Linked DNA regions of Homo sapiens: regions 1, 2 and 4 are each linked to region 3. The links come from fine-mapping of genetic effects on gene expression. A gene starts in region 3. Each other region holds a variant in brackets. All regions are shown on one strand. Distances are between the middles of the regions.

Region 1 (5,878 bases), 92 kb after region 3:
CATGGACTCTCCAAACCCACACATTGCATCTTTTGTTTCAAAAATGTTCCTTAATTTTTCTTTTCTTTTTTGAGAAAAGGCCTCACTGTGCTACCCAGGCTGGAGTGCAGTGATGCAATCATGGGTCACTCCAGCCTTGACTTCCCAGGCTCAGGTGATCCTCCTAACTCAGCCTCCTGAGTAGCTGGGACTACAGCTGTGTGCCACCATGCCTGGCTAATTTTTGTATTTTGTGTAGAGACAGGGTTTTACCATGTTGCCTAGGCTGGTCTGGCATTCCTGGACTCAAGCAACCTGCCTGCCTCGGCCTCCCAAAGTCCTGAGATTACAGGTGTGAGCCCCATGCCAGGCCCTGAATTTTATTTTGATAATCTCTGAGATTGCTAGAACCACTGGAAAGTGCAGCACCACAGAGCCAGAAAATCAGTGGCATGATACCAACTAATGTGTAAATAACACTAGTTTACAATTAGTTATCCACGATTAACATGATTTTCACGGCAACACAGTGAGGAAGACATTCTCGTGATTCCCATCTGACAGATGGAGAAACCGAGCTTCAAAGATGTGAAGGATGTTTAAAGTCAGATTTAACTGGGCCTAAACTCCAAAGCTGGTTTTCTGATATCAGAACCTAGTTGGATTGGTGCACATGCCTGTATTTCTGGACATTTGGGATCATCCCAGGCCTCAGGCTTCCATACTTTCCTACTTTGACACTCCTGAGAAATCTCATCCGAAAGAAACTTCAATCTTGGCTCTTAAAAGAGAGGGTAGGGTAATAAGAATAATTAGAAGAGTAATTAGAATTGCGCCATAAGAAAGAGACAGAGTGGTCTGTTCACACCAATGGCTGGCTGACTTGAACTGTAGAGTGGCACTGCTGCTTACTGCCCCTGTGCAAGGACACGCTCTGCCTCCCCTGCCTCCTACAGCACGTGTCAGCTGCACAGACCTTCTTTCTGTTGCTGCAGCACACGAAAGCTCTCTCCCACCTGGGGGTCTTTACACGGCTGTGCCCTCTGCATCCCGGGACCTTCTTGCCAGCTCATTCCCATTATTCCTGGTCCCATTCAGATGCCAGCTCCTCAGGATGCCTCTTCTGCTCACTCTTTATAGCCCAGCCCATTACACTCTGTCCTGTCACCTTTGTTTATTCTCCTCAAACTACTTACTGTCTTTAAAATTAGCTTATTACTTTTTTTAGAATATACCATCTTAAGTATTTTAAGAGTACAGTTTAGGCCAGTGGTAGCTCACACCTGTAATCCCAGCATTTTGGGAGGTCAAAGCAGGTGGAATGCTTGAGCCCAGGAGTTCAAGACCAGCCTGAGCAACATGGCAAGAGCCCATCTATACAAAAAATAAAATTTTAATTAGCCAGGCACAGTGGCATGCACCTGTGAGCCCAGCTGTTCAGGAGGCTAAGGTAGCTGAGGTAGGAGGACGGCTTGCACCTAGGAGGTTGAGGCTGCAGTCAGCCATGATTGTGCCTCTGCACCCCAGTCTGAGCAACAGAGTGAGACCTTGTCTCTGAAAGAAAAACTGAGTGTACGGTTCAGTGGCAATAAGTACATTCACATTGTTACGCAACCATCACCACCATCCATCTCGAGAACTCTTCATCTTGCAAAACTGTGTGCCCGTTAAACAAAAACTCCCCATTTCCCAATCCTTCTAGCCCCTAGCAACCACTCCTATACTTTTTGTCTTTATGGATTTGGCTGCTCTAGGTACCTCATGTAAGTGGAATCATGTGATATTTTTCTTTTTGTGACTGGCTTACTTCACTTAGCATGATGTCCTTGAGGTGCACCATGTTGCAGCAGGTGCCAGAATTGCCTTCAAGACTGGATTGTGTTCCATGGTATGTATGCACCACATTTTGTTCATCCATTCACCCGCCAATAAACATTTGGGCTGCTTTCACCTTTGGCTATTGTGAATAATGCTGCCATAAACATAGGTGTACAAATATCCCTTTGAGGCTCTACTTTCAATTCTTTTGAGTATATACTCAGACGTTGAATTGTTGGATCATATGGTAATTCTATTTTTAATGTTTTGAGGAGCCTTCACACTACTGCAGCATTTTACATTCCCATCAGTGCATTACGGTTTTGATTTCTCCACATCCTTCTCAACATTTATTTAGTTCTGTTTTTTTTTTAATAGTAGCCATCCTGATGAGTGTGAGGTGGTGAAATTAGCTTCTCATCTACTTGTTTATCAACTATTTCTATTTACTAGAATAATAACTAGGAGAGCATTATTTATTCAACAGTGTTTGGCATGTAGATGATCAATAAATATTTTTTGACAGAACATAGGATGATCAGCATACTTTTTCATTTAATTTTTAAATGAAAATTTAAAATTTATATATATACGTGTGTGTATATATGTATGTTTATGTGTGTATATGTATATATATGTGTATAT[A/GTA]TATATATGTGTATATATATATGTGTATATATATGTGTATATATATACATATGTATATATGGAGAGAGAGAGAGAGAAAGAGTAAGGTTTACTTGACAGGTAAGTCTCTCTCCCCTTGCCCCCAGCTACCTAATTTATTTCTTCAGAAGCAACAACTTTTACTAATGTCTCATGTATCCTTCTAGAAGTGTCTTATAATTATAGTCATGTACACTCTTTTTTTCATACAAATGGTAGCTTACTGATTTATGAGCAAAATGTGGATTAGGAGCCAGACTAATGGGCTAATTCTAGGGACACAGGCCAGAGTTCAGTCCTCAAAGTAAGAAGGGAAACCAGTAGATCAGAGTCAGGAAGGTGAAATTGCACCAAGGCTCAGGATTAGAGGCCAGAACAGGCAGTTGTTCCCAGGCAGAAAGGAAGATTCTTGCATGTGTCACATACATCCCTGCCTGCAACTGGCAAAGTCTTCTCTCTGTCCCTTGTGTACCAATTTACTTCTAGATGTCTCCCCTACCTGCCAGAGAGCAAGCTCACATGGTAGGATGTGCTGTGAGCACATGGTGACTTTGGTGGAGGAGTCTGAGGTCATGGCACAATGTTGAAGTGGAATTATCCAGTGATGGGGATGGAAGTGGTGACAGTGAGTCTTGACTAGAGTTAATGACTTGGGTGTCATCTATACAGAGGGGGTGGGTGCTAAAGTTTATGGGCAACAGTGAGCCTTCTAAAATTAAGTGTGATCTGGGCATGGTGGTTCATGCCTGTAATCCCAGTGCTTTGGGAGGCCGAGGCGGGAGAATCACTTGAGGCCAGGGGTTTGAGACCATCACTGGGAACATAGTGAGACCCTGTCTTTACAAAAAAAAATAAAATAAAATAAACCAAAAATGAATAAATAAATAAAGTGTGTTAAGAGAGAAGAGCAACAGGCAAAGACTGCACCCTGCCAATGACCACTGAAATCAGGAAGTGAAAGAGAAATTGTTGAAGAAAGAGGAATAATCCTTATCACCCTCTTGGCATGGGCACAATGGTGATGTTTCTTCATTTAAGAATCTCTAAGTTCACTCTGAATCACATGAGATTTCCTTTTAAGTATTTCCAGTAATTTATTCGTTAATTTATTTGCACGGAAACCAAATGCTTTCCTGGAAAATTGGTCTGTAAAAATATGTCACTCTTCAGGACAGTTGATCCCACAATGTGCTAATGAGGAGCAAGAAAGAAGTAGTGTGCCCTCTCCACAAATTGTATTCTTAACATGTTCACCTGCCCAAGTACTTGCCATATTTCCATTTTTTTCAGTCTTTCTTTTATTCTTCAACCTATTTTAAAATATGACCTTTCTCTTAGGACTTAACTACTCTTTTTTTAACCTAAACCAAGATTTGCCCTATCCTCTGCATTGCAATGTCATTTTTATCTCTGTAGGTGGGAAAAATCAACTCTCTAGGATGTTCAATTAAGTTTTTCTTGGTTTGCCTATAAAAGCTATTTGAGGGTTTCTCTTAGGAACACCATCCACAGTAGCTTGCTTATACCTTAGAATAAAACCTCTGAGCTTTCAAACTTCTCTTTCCCCTCTGCTCTCCTGTTTCTTTCGGCCCCAAATATGCAATACCGCCTTCTGAAAAGCAGGCAAGTCTCTCATGTGACACCTTCAAATAATGCAAGAAGTGATCTTTTGCCCTAAAAGAATAAAGGGAATTCTGATTCTTTTTGCTGTTTTACAATGAAATTTCACCCTTTGCTTTCTATTTATGGCTTACCAAGTCTCAATGCTATATTGTTCTTTGAGAGAGAGCAAGAAGGTAATTCTGAATCCTAGTAAGCCCACATAGCACATATTCGGCCTGCAAACTCAAGTTCTAGGATCTAAAACCCATTAAACATAAGTCTGTGACATACAGAGAAAAGAACAATAGCAAAAAAAAGGAGCCCAATTATTCTCAAGAAAATACAGCTAGGGGAAGAGTTTTCAAAAATAGTTAAGTTTTCATATGCATCTATACCATCTTATTTTTATTCAATTTGCTCTTATTGACTATTTATCATGTGCTAGGTACTTTGTTAATGCTGGACATATAGAAATAAATAAGTTTCATAGAATCCACCTGGTTAAATAAAGAAAATGAGCTTGACCTTTCCACGGAGTAAAGTATGTGTGATACTATTGGTGTTACGGAGTCCCAAAAGGATAGAACTGTCAAGCGGAATGGGGCATTAGAAGGGAAATCTAGGTCAGAAAATCAATCTAATGGAAGAAGTATGTCAAGAAGGTATAAAACTCTGTGTAAAATTCAGAAGGACATTGTGGCAAGGTTATATTTAGTAATGGAGGGCTGGCAATTCATACTTCTGCTAGAAGTGCCATTCTTCCCACAGGGGAGTATCTATTAAATCCTTGGCTTAGTTTATTGACAATTTGTCCTCCATTAAAGTAGGGAAAACAGTGAGAAAAACAGCTATGCCAAACATGGTTCTGGCCAGCATAAAAGACTGGCTGGGGGTATGGAAGAGACAGAAGCCATGAGGAAAAATGACCCTGTCACATAATGTTAAGGAACGGGGAGGAATTTTTGGTGGGTAGACATTTCCTGGGACTTCCCTGGGGAAGTAGCTCAAAGGATGTTTAAAAGAAATGGAGGCACGATCCATTGCCTGAGACTAAGAAGGAATATGGCTAAAAAAAGATTGGAGGTTCTACAAAGCAAAATGTTGACAAGATCATCATAAATGATCTCAAGTAGAAAGAAAATGGAAAGCCAATATAGAGACCAATGCACGTACATAGATACTCTGAAGAGTTCTGTTTTTGACAAGCTATCTGAAAAAAAAATGCAAGCAGGGACACAAAATGAAGGGCACCAAAAAGTGACACAATCTTGATAGGGAAATAAGAATCAGCCTACAATCTGATAGGGCAAGATACCAATTTGATACTTTAACTCTGGTGTCTCCCCACCTCAACCCCCCAACCCCCATAATTGTTGCCTTGTACTCCTCCCTTAACAGCAAGCTAGACACAAGGCACCTGCCATCTCAGCAGAGGACCATTGAACACAGCATACAACCAGGAGAAAAATTAGTCCTATCCTGGGGCCTACATTGTTTTAGAGCTTGGTCAAGATGAGAGATACCCCCAGACCCCATATAATGATTGCCATATTTCTATGAGAAATTCCTATGTGTGGTGAGGGGAGGAGTTGGAAGTGGGTAGGGAGTGGTCTTCCAGATTGCATCTCCACTCCCAACTCCTCCCCCACCACACACAAACACACAAGAACTCCACGGCCATGGTGAAGTGACTGTGCAAGAAATCAAGGTGTTTGACCTCTTTTATTAAGAGCCCTAGGGCAGAAATGATGGGCTGTGGAGACATCACCACCTATCACAAGTCATTTTAGATAGTTTCAATGGGAAGGTCCCTCAC
Region 2 (5,710 bases), 310 kb before region 3:
ATTATTTGCATCGTTTTCTCAATAAACAAGCAGATGTATTTCTAAGCCTCTTCAATTATTACTAAGGACCATAACAGAAACATATTATTTTGTAAATAAGTAGGGCAAGATATAATATTACGGTAAGAATTTTTTGGTTGGGAACATTCTTTTAACTATTAACCCACAGATTGCAAATTGTGGGCAAAAAGCTTTAATTTTTTCCAAGAATTGAATTAAATGTGAATGGTTCTGAGCAGGATACGCACTCTCTGGTGTTTCTGCACGCTTGTTAGCATTTCTGCTGTTGTCTTCACAGCCCTGATTCACACATTTATATTATGGCATTTTTGTTTGGGGTTCGTTCTAAGTGATGGCCTTCTTGATTTATGAAGGGTTTTATAATCCCTTTTTCCTCTTACTAAAAGTTAGAAGAAGAGATAAAATCTTTGGCTGACATATGGTTTTCTTATCTGTACATAAATAACACTGCTATGTAGGAGACTTATGGAAACTTATTCTTCAGTAATTTTCCTCATTGTTGATATTGCCATTGTCCAATAGAATTTTTCATTTTTCCAGAAACAGCCCCATTTGAAAAAAATTCCTGGAAACCAAAGAAGCATTGTAGTGTAATGCTGCTCAGTGTTTAGTAACAGGAAAGTCATCTGGATTACGTTTAAGGAGAAAAGCAAAGGGTAAAATAGTCTTTCTCCCATTGGCTTTATTTTGCTCAGCAAAATAAAAACATCAACATCAAGTACTAGATAGGGCTTTTTCTTGAAAGCTGGTTGCATTAAAGTGCTCTGCACTGCACAGGTAATCTTTATCAACTCTTGAAATATTTTTTTGTCCCCAAATATAGTTAACTTCTTTCTTTTATAACATAAGACTGCACTAATTATAGGGTAGTGGCAAAACCTGGCTGAAATCAGTTGCTCTCTTTATGTTATTCCCAGAACACAGGACAAATTCCCATTCTTAACAGTGATTTCCTTGTTTATAACTATGAGCTTCAGTGAATATCCTCCTTCAAAATCAGAGCACTGACCTCATCACAGAGAAAAACAAACAAACAAACAAATACACTCTGCAACCTACAAGGTTAACCCTCAACTAGCTCACACCCATTGAAGAAATCTTGGCTGTGTGCACAAGAAATGAAATCTATTTCAAAGCAATTTAATACAAAACCATTCAAAAAAGTTCTCCAATAACCATCTTCTTTAATTTGAACTGCTAATTGAACATGAAGAGTGAAAATTAAACACCTAGTTCGTCCGGTTTAAATGGTCACTAAGACTGTATAGGCAATTTCAAAATGGGCACTGTAACTAAAAGAAAGCAAACCTATTTAGAGCTGAACGAGACTCTTGCACTGGGTTTTGCTTGCTCTAAGTGACAAAGTAAGCTGATGCTCATAGCACATTGGACTACAGCAAGAGAAAGGGGGAGAAGCAGATGGAGCATCTCCTTCACTGTCATGAGCCCAGTGAGTAAAAGGAGTGAGGAAACCCTCTTTTGTCCACAGATTTACAAATACAAAAAAATAAATAATATTCTAAGACAGTACAAATGCAAATACTGTTCCCTTGTGTCAATTACATACAGCATGCCTACAAAGAGAGAATGGTAATTCTTCTTCATTCACAGACAGGACACATGGCAGTGCACTATTCAAAATGCTTTGATAATCTTAATTTTTGTTTCTGGTGCTGAGATATTATGAAAGGAACTGCATTTGCAACTTATTAAATACTTCCAGGAACAAATAGTTCACTTTGCTTGGGACTTGTAGTTTTGAGTAATTAATCATCCATGGAGCAGGAGCCAGTCAGGAGATACCCGTTGGTACCACTGGTCCCATTGGTGGTTGTCGCAGTGTGGGGATTCTTTCCCGGAGGTTCTGAGTCCTCCTCATCTGAGCTAGACTCAATATCACTTCGATCATCCTTGGACACCTGTGGAGTAGAAGCAGGTGAGTATAACCAGCACCTAAGAAATCATCAAGGTATGGCATGCTAGAAGCACATGCAGTCATACACAAGGGGAAACAGATCCCAATGTTAAAAAACTGAAGAGGATGAGAACATTGCCAGAGCAATAAGTTCCCCTTCATTGGAGAGATAAAATGTAGGCGACAAAGTCATTTATGAAGGAATGTAAGTATCATGGAGGGCTAGACTTCTTGACTTCTTTAAGGTATCTTTCCATATTGAGAACATACTAGACCATGAATCCCACTTGTAATCAAAAAGTAGCATACTGTGTCACTGGAATGGCGTCATAGGAATTTGGTACAAATGGATCAATTTACTCATTGATGATCACATTCTCCTTGAGAATAATTTAAAATCAGCTCTCAATTAACCATAGCAATGGAGATAGTCACTAACTCAGAACACTGAAAAAAAAAAATTCCTATTTGGCTTTTTCATGCATTGTTTTATGATTACATTTCTATTTTTTGTATGCTATAATTAATTAGGAATTTTGTTCTGTATGTCACACAACAAATGACAGCAGGAAGCATTTTTTTTTTCTTTTCTTTTTTTTTTTTTTTTTTGAGTCAGAGTCTTGCTCTGTTGCCCAGGCTGGAGTGCACTGGTGCGATCCAACTCACTGCAACCTCCGCCTCCTGGGTTCAGGCAATTCTCCTGCCTTAGCCTCCCGAGTAGCTAGGATTACAGGCATGAGCCACCATGCCCAGCTAATTTTTGTATTTTTAGTAGAGACAGGGTTTCACTATGTTGGCCAGGCTGGTCTGGAACTCCTGACCTCAGGTGATCCACCTGCCTTGACCTCCCGAAGTGTTGGGATTACAGGTGTGAGACACCGTGCCTGGCCAGGAGGCATCTTAAGAACCTGCTGGGCGGGGTGAAGCTTGAAATATT[T/A]CCTGAGGAAAATCCACTGACTAGATCATCAAGAACTGGCTCCCAGCCAGGCGAGGTGGCTCATGCCTATAATCCCAGCACTTTGGGAGCCTGAGGTGGGTGGATCACCTGAGGTCAGGAGTTCAAGGCCAGACTGACCAACATGGAGAAGCCCAGTCTCAACTTAAAAAAAAAAAAAAATTAGCCGGGTGTGGTGGCGCATGTCTGTAATCTCAGCTACTCTGGAGGCTGAGGCAGGAGAATTGCTTGAGCCCAGGAAGTGGAGGTTGCGGTGAGCCAAGATCGCGCCATTGCACTCCAGCCAGAGCAATGAGTGAAACTGTCTTAAAAAAAAAAACAAAACAAAACAAAACAAAAAAAACTGGCTCCCATCCTGCCAAGTCTCTTCAATCCTCCATTCAATCTCACTAAGTCACATGGAGGTCAAAATAAGGTGAGAAGATGTAAATCTATACATTACCATAAACGATGAGAAAAATCCTACTATTTAGCAAGGAAGTAGTTTTTGGGGGAAATTAAGAAAATACTGCTTTTAAGATAAAAATAGTTTGAACCTCCTATTCTGTAAGTCTAAATTATGGTAAGCATTTTTACCCAGAAGGCCTTAAGATTCTTGAGTAACTCATCACTGCTTACTTATATTTTTCAGTGGTGTGACAAAAGAGACCTGGTGGCCTCCCTTCATAGGAATTTTCCCAATCTGGTCCTCCTGTGATTCTCTAGGGGGTGGGCTGGGGAGGTGGCAAAGTCTCCTGGGAGGTATGGCAGAATTAACTGGCGCTTTCCCACATCACATCCTGTCTATGTTACCACTACACTCTAACATGAGAATCCTGGACTCCCTCCACCTCTCCCAACTTGAGAAACTACAGTTCCTGTGGGAGAACGTCCTCTCTCTCAGGTGGGTGGGGTCAGGAGAACTTGAAAGCTGAGAACTACTGCTTTATGCCAACCAGTGGTGATGAAGTAAATATCATAAAAGTGAACCTCACTCCAATACCCGTTGAGATGGGACTGAACTCACACAGGCCATCTCCAAAAAGATTTAAATACTAAGACTCCAAAATGGCTAAAGATAATTGAACTTAAACATTGTGAGTCACAAAGCCAGCATTATAGTAAAGTTCCACTATGTTGTTAAGTCCATTAGTCATAAATAGAAAACTCCAGTTTTACAAAGTGATTAATTTACATTTGCATGCTCAGTCAGATTTTTTAAATTGCACTTAGAAAAATCTATACTTATGTTACCTTCAAAGAAAGGACAATTTAGAATATCTCAAAATAGCCCAGAGGAAAATAACTCATGGTCAAGATGAATCTTACTATCCCAGGTGAGAGCCGCAAGGGCAGCTAAGATATTCTGAAGCCTGAGATCTAGAATAAAATTAATCATCATCTCTCTTCATAAAGTAGAAGGAATAAGTTGAAGAGCAGGCAACAAGTCTGGTAGAAATAGCAATGCAATTAAGGACACAAGTAATCTAAGCAGCATTCTTGCATATTTAGTTATTGTTATCATATTGACAGTTTTGTGCATGTTGATTAAATTTGTATCCAAATGAGGACAAGGAGATTTTAAAATAGAAATACATGTTCATTACAAAGAGTGAGAGGTCACAGAGAAAAATGAACTTTAGCTTCTGAACAATTAATTGATCAAAATAATTAGGATTTCTACTAGAGCTGGTGCTGAGAAGTGGCTTCATAGTACACGACTAGATGCCCCGACTTCCCCTGCAGAACAGGCCAGCCCTGTTGACCTTGATGAGTCAGAGTGGTCAGGTGCTGCCATATGGCCCCAGGCAGGTCAGGCCCACAGCTGATGCTCAGGCCTCCATTCTGCAATGTGTTGATCCTCTCCCCCTCCAACTAGTTCTGTTTCTCCTACTTTACTTTGGTCTATTTCTGTCTTTTAGCCAACACATTAAACCTGGCAAGTACCTGGCAAGCTTTCACACCATCCTGTCAGAGAGGGGGTAGTGAAAGAAATTCTTCTTCTCTGTTGGATCATGCAACATTTAGCAGAATACAAGCTCACACCAAAGGGCCCTAACAGAGCTGTCTCTAGTGTCTCTTGCAGTTCACAGAGCTACAGCTCACATGAAGCCTCTAGACAGTGCCAATAGGTTAGACAGAACAATATGCGTGGAAACAAAAGCATCTGAGTGCCCCTCCAACAGGCAAGAGGCACTCAGGACAGGGATAGAGAGAGAGGAGGAGAAACTTACATGTAAAGGGTTCCACTTCCCAGCCTTCCAGGGTAGCAGAAGGAAGAGAACAAACAAGTAAGAAAATGTCACAGAGAATGATCTGGAAAAGTCTCTGCTCTACACACAGGGTTGGGGCTGAGGCTTAGGAAGCTTTATTCGAATCAACCTCAAGTCCACTTTTAACCAAAAAGATTTAACTAAATCTTGTTGGAAGTCATGAACAGATTTGTTTTTCAGTTTGAAAGAAAGGTTTGTTTAAACCGGCATACAGCACCAAGCGACCCTTCTCATAAAAGGAAAGAAGTGATTAAATTTCTGTTCAGTATAAATATAATCAGAGGAGGTCCAAGGTTGACAGGAAGAGGGAGAGCGAACACAACAAATAATATATTATTAAGTCTAAAATTACAAATGCATATCATTGGGTGCCATCGCCAGCAAAGGAACACTGAAGACTTAAAAAATGAACTAGAAAAGGAAATGACTCAATTTTTGCTCAATTCTGAAGAAATACTACCAATTTTGATGAAATATGGAATAGTAAATAGTTGATCCAGAGAAATTACAAAAACAAAATTTTTTAAGACATATTGGAAAAAGTGAGTTGTAGCTTACCTTGCCTCT
Region 3 (5,756 bases):
CTTAGATCAATGGCCTGAAGGAAACTGACCAACTCACTTTATATCAATATGAGGACATTTGCTGTGACTGACAATTGAAAGCAGCTCACCCCTCTATGTAAACTCTAAGTCGAGTCATGGGATTATGGAAAAAAAGAAAGAAAATAAAAAATGTTTAGAAAGAGGAAAAATGAACTTCCAGTTTTCAACTATCACATTAGTGTTTATCTTTTTAGAGGCAGAGACAATCTAAGTACAAAGCCATCTCCATTCTAACAACTTAATTTTTTTAAACACAGTGAACAGCCTGGAATCAGCATAGAGAAGGAGGATGTCAGGAAAATTCGGCTGTTTGTGCACAGATCATGCTTTTGTTCTCCAACACATAAGACTGCACATCTCTTTCAAATGCATTATCTATCTAAAAGTGAGCCCAGCCAGAATTTATCAGACACAATTTATCATAATTCAGCAATTGTGTGTAGATCCCCTACTATGTGCCAACATAGAGCAAACCTGCTATCCCTGAGTCTGCTTGTTTTTGGAGAGCCTGCAAAACTGTATAGAGTTCATATTTTCTGTAACCAAACATTTGCTCTAGAGGTAACTCTACACCTGCAAACACACCCATTTTTTCACAGCACTGCTGTGACTTTTTTGATCCTTTTTTGTATAGGATCAATGACACATCTGTATTAGATTCCAATAATTTAAACATAGGTCTTAAAGTCTGTTGCTTTGTGCATGTCAATTTCTGCAGGCGAACAGCTGACTTCGTTTTCAAGCAACAATACTGTCCGGTGAAAAATATACCTTCCTGAGACAAAAGATACTTTTTGTCCCCATGAAGCTTTGTTGCCTCGTCCAGCAGCAAATGACTCAAAAGACGCGTTCTGCCACCCTCAACAGTCGTTTTCAGGCAAAGAGGAACAGCAAATGAGGTACCAGCAAAAGCTTAAGAAACAAAACCAAGGTGAGTTGAAGGCGGGGAAGAAAGGCGGAGTGGAAGCGAGAAATGCAATCTAAACTCTACTTTGTGATCTAAGAAATTCAGCCTTTACTGATGAATTGGGCAGAGGAAGGGGAGGGTACAAGAAAGGGGAAGATAATATTTTCTGTTACGAAAAAAAAAGTGTGCTGCTGTCCTGGTTTTCTTTCAGTAGCACCCAGAGAATGCATGGCAGGCACAATCTAGTTTCGCGACGAAAACGAATTCCATGAGAATAACACAAGTTTGTATGTGACACAATGGAGATATCCAACCAAACCGAGGAACTATACAATTGCATGACAATTCCTCAAAATTTTAAGTGCCTTCGAGTACCAAAAAAGAAGTTTATGATTATTCACAGGACAGGGTTATCAGTTTAATATCACCATTTTGCAGGATGTGGACCCGTCCTGTCACATCCTCTTTTAAAGAAACCGCTAATAACCTGAAATGCTATTATCCCCTATTTGCCAGGACTGTGGGCCTGATAGTTTCACGGATAAAAACCAAACAGCGACCAGAAGCCAGGAAGTCCCTGGCGAATTCTTTTGAAGCACAACCCCTACAATCCGTGTGCCGGAGCATAAAGATTGAAGTGTGCGCGGTTCCTCCTCCCTCCGGGCCGCGCGTCCGGAACGTTCCTGGCTGTCAGGTGGGTGGCGCGGGCCCCGGCGGGAAGCCCTGCCTGGCAGCCTTGCGTGGCGCGCCGGCGGAGAGGGGCGAGCCCCGCGGAATGCGGCGGGTCCTGAGCCCGACCACCGCTCACCTTTGTTCGCCTGCCCTTGCCGGGAGGAGAGCAGGGCCCAGGAGGAGGGCAGGGGGCGACCCTAACGCTCCGCGGCTCCTCCCCGGCGCCCGGGAGGAAATCCGTGGCAAGCCAGACCCTTTCTGGCTCCCAGAAAGCCAGCGGGGCAGGGGGGTCAGCAACCCCTCCCCGAACACAAAGGTTGGGAGGCGTGAACGCGAGCGTTGGGGGCGCGGGGGCGTGCGCCAGAGAGCGCGCGAGTGTGTGCGCGCGTGTGTGTGCGCAGGGGGAGGGGAGGAGGGGCTTCAGCCCTTCTTACCTCTCGAAGATGAGCCGCACCATGAAGATACAGAAGGCCAGGGGAAAAGCGAGATAGAGGTCCTCAGCCTGCGGGAAGGTGGCCTCCTCCGTGTTCTTCAGGTCCGCCCAGGTGACATTGTGCGGGAGCCAAAACCTCTCGTTCCAGAACCAGGCTAAGATCCCTGCCATCTTGCTTTGTCCACTCCTGTCCTGCGGCACCCGCAGCCCGCCAAGCTCTCCACCGCGCAGGGCGCCCGGGGATGCGCGCCCGGCTGGCCCCGAGCCTGTGCCGCCGCCGCCGCTGCTCCCGCCCGCCGCCGCCGCCTCCTCCGCGGCCGCTGCTCTCGAAGGCTCGCGGCGAGCCCCGGTTCTCTCCTCCCTCTGGCCGCGCTGGGGAAAGGGGCCGCCTTGCCCGTCACATGGCAGCTCGGGCCGCCCGCCCTGATTGGCTCGTCTTCGCGTCAAACAGCGAGGCACACACGCGGCCAACTCGCCCACACCCGCAGGGCAGGGCGCAGTCGCTGCGCCCTGGGCGCAGGGGCACCGCTCCGGGGAGTGTCGCCCGCCCCTGCTCTCACCGCTCTTTCGCTTTGCGCTTAGGGCGACGACCTAAAGTCGACCCCCCAAATCCGCCCTAGCCCCCTGGCTGGCTCGCACATGCTCAGAATGCTGGCTCCTGCCCCGCTGGGGTTTCAGGGCTCTCAGTCCTCTTCCCGTGCGCCCGGAGGCGGTGGGTCAGCAGGTAGGGGCTGCCGCCAAGCTTCAGAACCAGCCCTGCTCCAGGAGGACAGCAAAAAAAAAAAAAGGGGGGGGGAGGGGGAGGGGTAAAGAGCAAAGGAGGAAGTGGGAGGGAAAGGATCCTCCACTCCCGCGCTTGGAGAGGCAGGGTGAAAAATCAGGAACTGAGGCAGGATGGTTTGGCAAGAGCCTTCTGCCTCTGCCCCACGCCTGCCTTTCCCCAATCTTTGACTTTCCGGTCTTTTATACTGCTGCTTCTCATCAAAGTAGCTCCCCCAGGGAACAAGCCCCCCTATATTGATTTATGAGGTGGTACAAAAAATTAGGCACTTAATTGCTATTTGATTATTAATTGCTACTTGATGACGATGATGATGATGATGATGATGATGATAGCAACTGCAGCGTTCTGTAAAACCACCCCTCTCAACTAACCTCTCTGAAAAGGCTGCTAGACCACATTTTGACCTGGCACATCATGAGAACCTCCACTGTGCTACTCGGCAGGCTCATTATTTCTGCCTTTTGAATCTAAAACCTTTAAGGCATTAGGCCTGTGAGGCCTAACCCAGGCACCTTCCCTCCCGCAATGCATTTCCCCATTGATACAGGAGCCATGTGTGAATTCATTCCATGGCCCATGTATACATGGTTCTGGGGCATTTTTGTTCATTTTTCTCACATTCATTTTCTGCCTGGTGCTGCCAGTAGGCTATACTAAACCTTTCCAGTGGGCATATAACCGCACACACACACACACACACACACACAGAGAGAGGGAGTTTCTTTTACTCTTCCCTCCCCTCTTTCCACTCTATCTCTTGAAAGTGAAACTGAAGAATGGCCTATACTGGTGCTTCCAATTTCTCTCCCCTCATTTTCTTTTGAACTTCCATTTGGACATTTGTCTCCTCTGCTGCATTGAAACTGCCCAAGGTCACCTGTGATCTTCATGCTGCTAAACACAAAGGTCAGTTCTTATCTTAGTCCAGGCTGCTTAGACTAGGTGGCTTAAACAGCAGAATTTATTCCTCACGGTTCTGGAGGCAGGGAAGTCCAAGATCAACATGCAGGCAGATCCAGTGTCTGGCAAGGATCCTCTTCCTGGTTTGAAAACAGCTGTTTTCTTGTGTATCCTCACATGGCAGAGAGCACAGAAAGAGGAAACACAGATTAGTGCCCTATCTTCTTATAAGGGCACTAATCCCATTCATGAAGGTTCTACCCTCATTAGCTAATTACCTCCCAAAGACTCTGTCTCTGAATACTATCACATTGGGAACTAGGATTTCAGCATATGAATTTTGGGGGACACACACATTCAGTTCATAGCAGTTCACAACACCTCTGTCAGTAGCATTTGGCCCAGTTGTCAGGTCGTGTGTCTTAAAACATTCTTGACTTGGCTTCCAGAAACCTCACTCTTCTGGGTTTCTTCCTCCTTCATGGCCATTTCTTCTCAGTCTCCTTCCTGGTTACTCCTCACTTTTCTAACCCCTAGAAGTTATAGTGGCCTAGGAGTCAGTCTTTTTTCCTCTTCACTTTTCTATCTGAATGTATTCATTTGGTGATTTTATCCAGTCTCGTGGCTTTTAATGACATCTGTATGCCCTCCAATGTCATGCTAATAGCTCCCATATTTATATCTCTAGCCATGAACTTTTTCCTGACCTTCTGACTCTTAAATCCACTGGCAATTTAACACCACCACTCAGATGTCTAAAAGCTATCTCATGACCAAACTATTAATCTTCCCCTTGAAATCTCTTCCTCCTGTAGTCTTGGCTCAAGCCAAAAATGTGGAGTCATTTTTTCCCCTTCTCTCTTTCTCTCATACCTCCTTTCCAATCCATCCCAAATCCCATCAGCACCATTTTAAAACCATAATCTCACCATCTCTCACCACCTCCCCTGCTACCATCTTGGTCCAAACAACCAATACTTCTAATTCACATTACTCCAGTAACCTCCCAACTCCCAGTTTCACCCTTTGCCCCTCTACAGTCTATTCTCAGCCAGTGTGATCCTATGCAAATTTGTCAGATCACCCCTGGGGTGAAAACCCTGCTTCTTCCTCATCCCTCCCAAGTGAAAGCCAAATTATTCCAATGACCTGTGATATTTGGTTCCGTATTAACTCTGACTTATTTACTCTTCTCTCTCCTTCACTCTGCCTGAGTCCACACTGGCCACCCTGCCCTTACTGGGACACACCAGCTATGTCTTAGAGCCTTTGTGCTTGCTCTTCTCTGTCCCTGGAACTCTTTTTACACGAACATCCATGTTTGCTCTGTACTGATGTCATTTTCTCCCTGAAGCCTTCCCTGGCCACCCTAGTTAATCTACATCCCTCAATCCCCACCACCACTCTTCCTATCTTGCTTTGTTTTTCTCCAAGACACTTACCACCGTCAACACAAGATATATTGTACCTATATCTTCATCAATCATCCACACAGACATGCACTAAAATGTAAGCTTCAGAAAGTTAAAAGATTTGTATTTATTTTATCAACTGTTCTATTCCTAGCACTTAAAAAAAAAAACTGCCCGGCACATTGTAGATACTCAATAAACTACTGAATAAATGAATCAACATTACTCCAACCCCAAAAAGTCTTCTCAAGGAGAAGAAAAAAAATCTGAATAATTGTGTTAAATATTTATATATCCATGTTAGACTCGTGTGTAGAATAGTGTGGGCATAAAGAAGGAATTGGTCAATTCTGGGGTGAGGGAGGTGAGGTGTCATTGAAGTGAGTCTTCATTTGGGAGTAGAAGTCGCCATCACCACTCTAGACCATGTGGTGAGCTTCTCAGTAACACTGGAACATGCCTTGGCACCAGCTGCATTCTCGTAGGCCATAGACAGAGGTTTGTTAAGACCTCTCACCAACTTTGTGTCCGAAAGTCATGTCATGACATGTCATGACATGTCAGAGCCTGGCCTTCTGGGCCAGCCAGACTTCTTCTGTGACTACCCCTGGTTTCTCATGTCACTCC
Region 4 (5,000 bases), 180 kb before region 3:
TGCTTTACATATATGCAAAACAACCTTCCAACCTATACAATAGAGATTTAAAGGGCTTAACATTATAGGTGTTCAATGGTGAGGGGATCCACAAAGAACCTGGGCCGGTAGGTTTTAGGTAAAGGTGAGGACGGTCATTCTATGTACGTGATGCTACATTAGCAAACCCTGAGGAAGCCATGCATCCAGCTGCCTGGGACAGGAATATGTGGGGCAGTGGGAAGTCTAAAGACTAGGTGACAGTTTTATGCTTCATTTGCCTTTGTCAAAGTTGCTAACGTCCAGAGGAAAAGCTGGGGACTTTGTTCCGTGCAGTTTCTATGGGAAGCCAGGGAAGAACTCTCAAGAACAAATCGGTTAAACTGATTACAATCAGTTTAATTGAAAGACACGTCTAAAAAAATGACATTTCCGGTACAGTAATACTCATCTGGTATTTGAAAGTAAGGCAAGTGGTGCAGAGAAGGGTGAAATGGGGCGGCTGGGAAGGACAAGTGGTCTGAGCAATCATGTCGTCTGTGAAAGGGTTAAATGGTAATGAAGGAATAGTGACATCAACATCTGGTGGTTAAGTTCTGCTGGCCAGGATTAAGGATGTAATTTTACAGCAATCCATGGGTGGATTGGGCCAAGGGATGGAGGAAAGATCTGAAATGACTCTCCACCATCATCTTTAGTTCCCAACTCCACTCAGTCACCACTCTGGGTATATGGAGGAAGATGGAAAGAGAATACAGACAAGACATGGGTTAGTGGTACAGAATGAGTTAATAAGATGAGAGACTATATATTAAGGTCAAGGAGAAGGAAAGTGAGGAAGCCCTTTCCACACAAACACCAGGTATCTTTTAGAATGAGGACAAGCAGGAAAACTCAGCCTTCTTTGGCTAAAATGTCCCATCTCCTTAATGCAACATTCCACTTATCACAAAGCCTCATATTATATAAGTATTTTTAGACAAAGCTTAACTTCTCTGCTAGATTACAAAATCCCTGAAGGCAGGAGCCATAGCTTCCTACATCTGACACCATGTCTTGTGCATCGATGCTTAATAAATGTCTGCTAAATTGAATTAGGCTCCCATGTTACTGATGATACCAGGGAAAAGAGCAATAATAGCCTTGGCACCACAAGGTTAGTGTCTCAGACTGTTTCATCCATGGTGCCCACAATCACTGCTGTCATAGGATGGGTGCTCAACAGATTCTTAAAGAAAGAATGAACAAATGAACAGAGATCAGTATCTCCCACCAGTATGAACAGAAGCTCTTTGGAAATAGCCAGGAATGGAACACCCTTTAAATCCCAGCTTTTCCTACTTGAATGCTTTATGCCCACATTTCCATTCAGCAACATGCAGGGACTGCTTTGTATGGCAGCTATAGGATTAACAGACGTTATTAAGTTGTTAAGGTAAAGTACACGGTCCTAAGGGCACAGAAATTTGATGTATGTCTAGATATGTAAATACTTACATCACTATCCATATCGAGAACATTGCCAGCACTCACTCCAGCAGTCTCTCTTTACCCCACTCAGGTAAAACTACCTCTATCAATATAGATTAATTTCTATGAGGGAAAAAGTTACTTTATCCTTTTCACTCTTCACTTCCTTGTGGAAGCCTACATTTCTTGGGCACAAAATGGTCACCTTGTCTGTGCTTTGGAATAGTCATTCCAAGATAACTAGTATCACCAGATTTTTGACTAATAAATCCTAAGCAATGACAGCAACGGCCCCTGTCAAGCAGGCCTATTCTCATGTGCATTAATAAATGAGAAGGGAGGCAAACATAAACAAAACAAAGCACAAACACTAAGCCATTTGTCCCACCTGACAGCAGACCCAGTACCAGATACTCCCTGAACTAGAGTTCCCCTGGAACCACACACAGAGCTATAATCAGAGCATGAGCTGGTCC[A/G]ATCGGAATTCCTGCTGCTCTGCTCCACATCAAGTACTTGTCCTAAGCACCCCACCCCCATCCCAAACACACCCAGACAAGATGAGGCCCTTCCCTGCTGGGAAAGAACACTGGCTTCACAAGCAGAAGTAGAACATCTCATTACTTCCCCCAGAAAGCTGTTCTTAAGTAAAGAACATCTGGTTTGTTTCATTATTGTTGTTGATGAGGAAAATGTTCTATTATGGTGATCATGGTATGTGAACGCCATTAGCTTTCAGATTTTAGAAAAAACACACTTGAGTAATGCTTTCCTCGCTAAATTCAGTAAATCATTTTTCTTTCTGTGTCAGAGAGGTCTCTGATGATGGTTCAGCTAATGCAGAGTGAATGTGCAGGTACAGATTTTGATACATGGATCAATACTTCCTATCAAATTACCTGAATCTTCTGGGAGTTACTAGTTTTCTATTTCCCATGGTAGAAACAGGAGGTGAATACTAATGCAACTCCCTTCTCAGGCACTGCCTCCGGCCAAAGGAAGCCTGTAAAGCTAGTTTTGTCACAGCATATAAATTAGACCAATGTTTTTCATAGTCAAGTTCAACTCTAAACTTTTGAGTAGAAGTCTATGCCTTCAGGGGACTGTCTAATAATGAAAATCATATTTAAGTGAGTGTTATTTTGGTAGACTCTGACATGCGTTCTTTTTTTTTTATTTCTAGAGTTTCTACAAAGTTGCTATGTTATCAAGTGAGCTGAAAAAATAAGATTTATGGTTTTATAAAACACCAAATCCAGAAACTCTTGTATAATTACAAAAGAGCAAGAACTCAGAATGCAGCAGCCACCATTTGCTCTTGGAGTTCAAGGAATCCCCAATATCTTCCCCAAAAATCTATACTTCAGCTTTATGAAGTCCTAAAGTCTGTATACCTCACAGCCTGAAGAAAGCTGTCAATCTGAAATGCCATTCTCTCAAGACACAGCCTAAACACAATGCAGCAACAACATGAGGAAAGGCTTCTCAATGCTCTTTACAGAAAATTTTATAAAACCAAAATCAAAGTATGGCATACCACTAAACAAGAAGCTATAAGCAATAATCTCAGTGCTGATGAAATACCTTTATCATCTGAAAAAGTTTTTAATTTATTCTGGGCAATGGACAATGTCAAAGTATATTTCCTTAAATGTCAAAATATAAAGTCCAAATTAGCTTCAAAAAAAATCCCTGAATTGAATTTTTGTTTATATATTTTAATTGATATATAGTAGTTGTACATGTTTTGGGGGTAATGTGTTTTATTTTTGATACTTTTTTTTTTTGATACGATGTGCAATGGTCAAATCAGGGTAACTGGGATATTCATCACCTCAAACATTTTTCTTAGTCCAACCAGTTTCTTAATGTGAATAGTATATAGATGGTCTGCTAGTTACATTGCAGAAAATAAATTCATAACATAGAAGGAGAGAAAAAATTGTTCTGTGGAATGATACCAACTTGTGTAAAAAGGAATTTCTATACCCAGTCTGAAAATTAGGAGATGATTTCTGATGAGATCCAAAACTACCAAGAATGCAGCAACCACAGATTCTCAGCTTTGCTAGTATGAGTTCAGTTGAAAGTAGCAGATAAATAAAGCAAAACAGTGAGAACTAGGCAAACATAAACAGCTGAATTTTTTTTTTCAGACCAAACATTTCTATTTCTTCACCATTTAAATGGAATTCGACTTTTAATTTTTATTTCCTCCTCTTTAAAATTCACAACCTCATGTTCTTTTATGACCTAGGTATACCTAATCCTATGTATAGTCTTTTCCATTCCAATTCCTACATTTCAGAGTTAATTTTATTTAATAGAAAATAAAGTATTAAAGATATATTGAAAAAAACCTCCAAATTTCTACCTGTAAAAGGAGTCTTCATTTTTACCTACTGCTGTGATTTATCCATTACATTACTACCACAGTAAAACACATACATGAGATTGTTACTTTCATGTAACATTCTACTAAATATTTTAAGAATAGTTATAGTTTTTCTCAAAAAGATTGCATGTCATTTTGTCACTTTGATAATTTAATTAAAATATTCTTCTAATATGAGACATTAAGTTCTGCTTTGGATTTGCTATGTTATGTATGTGTATATATTCATATACATTTAGTGAATATCCATCACCTCCACATTATCACAAGTTGTAATAAGCAACTTCACACATTCACACATCCATATTTAGTGTTCCTGTGTAATTTTTTCTTTTTTTTTAGACGGCGTCTCACTCTATTGCCCCAGGCTGGAGTGCAGTGGCAGGATCTCAGCTCAGTGCAACCTCCGCCTACTGGGCTCAAGCAATTCTCCTGCCTCAGCCTCCTGAGTAGCTGGGACTATAGGCGTGTGCCACCAAACCTGGCTACTTTTTTTTTCTGTATTTTCAGTAGATACAGGGTTTCACCATGTTGGCCAGGCTGGTCTTGAACTCCTGACCTCGTGATCCACGCGCTTCAGCCTCCCAAAGTGCTGGGATTACAGGCGTGAGCCACCGTGCCTGGCAATTTTTTATTAAAGATAAGTTCATAGGAGTTGGAGTGCCAGGTCAAAATATAAGAAGATATTTAAGATTATTCTGCATTACTGTGCCACCTTCCAAGGAGGTGGGACCAGCTCACCATACATATGAGCAATTTCAAATTCTTTACTGAATTATGGGATATGAGCTGAAAGCCATTAGTTAGGATAGTCTACATTACTGATTTTAGAGACGAAGCAATTAAATCCAAGAGAGATTAAGAGGCTTGCGTAAAGGTCACAAAGCTGATTAATGGCAGAATTCAATAACCCAGGCGTTCTGACGGCCTCTACAGGGCCTCACAGTCACATTATCCTTGGTTTCTCACTGGCCTTGGAATGCCCTCTCAGATAGAATGCCAGCCACAAGCCAACACAGAAGGAAAATGAGGTAGGGTAAATGAAAGGGACGAGGAGAATCAGAACATATGCAAGAGGGTAGATGTAGGTAGAAGAGGGAAAGGAAGATGCAATAAGCAGCAGCACTGAAGAATTTCCTTTCGTTATTCAAGATCTTTT

Direction of the effects. Positions count from the first base shown, and alleles are read on the strand shown. Sizes are in standard deviations (SD) of each study's normalised expression. Not every link is listed here.
For the expression in sigmoid colon of the gene that starts at base 2,381 in region 3, allele A in region 4 goes with a lower level than allele G (moderate effect, 0.43 SD a copy in GTEx).

The links. PIP is the estimated chance that this variant, and not a neighbour inherited with it, causes the effect. A credible set is the group of variants that fine-mapping cannot tell apart.
Region 1: its variant is the best candidate, but not a certain one, in a credible set for the expression of CERS6 in whole blood (INTERVAL, PIP 0.58).
Region 2: its variant is the best candidate, but not a certain one, in a credible set for the expression of CERS6 in whole blood (TOPMed, PIP 0.75).
Region 4: its variant is the best candidate, but not a certain one, in a credible set for the expression of CERS6 in sigmoid colon (GTEx, PIP 0.85).

Annotation. Positions count from the first base shown.
Region 1 is chr2:168,361,136-168,367,013 of GRCh38, reverse strand. The region is part of intron 2 of LOC105373734 (a long non-coding RNA gene); the gene reads left to right. Among named protein-coding and RNA genes, the nearest start is that of CERS6, 92 kb to the left of the region's middle. The variant A/GTA (reference allele first, on the strand shown) is at 2,443.
Region 2 is chr2:168,765,740-168,771,449 of GRCh38, reverse strand. It overlaps CERS6 (ceramide synthase 6), which reads right to left. Exons shown (of 10, transcript NM_203463.3): 9 at 5,702-5,710; 10 at 1-1,940. The coding sequence ends at 1,788. Among named protein-coding and RNA genes, the nearest start is that of CERS6-AS1, 18 kb to the left of the region's middle. The variant T/A (reference allele first, on the strand shown) is at 2,874.
Region 3 is chr2:168,452,897-168,458,652 of GRCh38, reverse strand. CERS6 (ceramide synthase 6) reads right to left here and starts at 2,381. Exons shown (of 10, transcript NM_203463.3): 1 at 2,035-2,381. The coding sequence starts at 2,204. It overlaps LOC102724081 (a long non-coding RNA gene), which reads left to right. Exons shown (of 4, transcript XR_002959433.2): 1 at 1-1,622. RefSeq lists silencers at 1,690-1,749, 2,200-2,329, 2,450-2,539, 2,570-2,789.
Region 4 is chr2:168,636,663-168,641,662 of GRCh38, reverse strand. The region is part of intron 4 of CERS6 (ceramide synthase 6); the gene reads right to left. Among named protein-coding and RNA genes, the nearest start is that of MIR4774, 56 kb to the right of the region's middle. The variant A/G (reference allele first, on the strand shown) is at 1,926.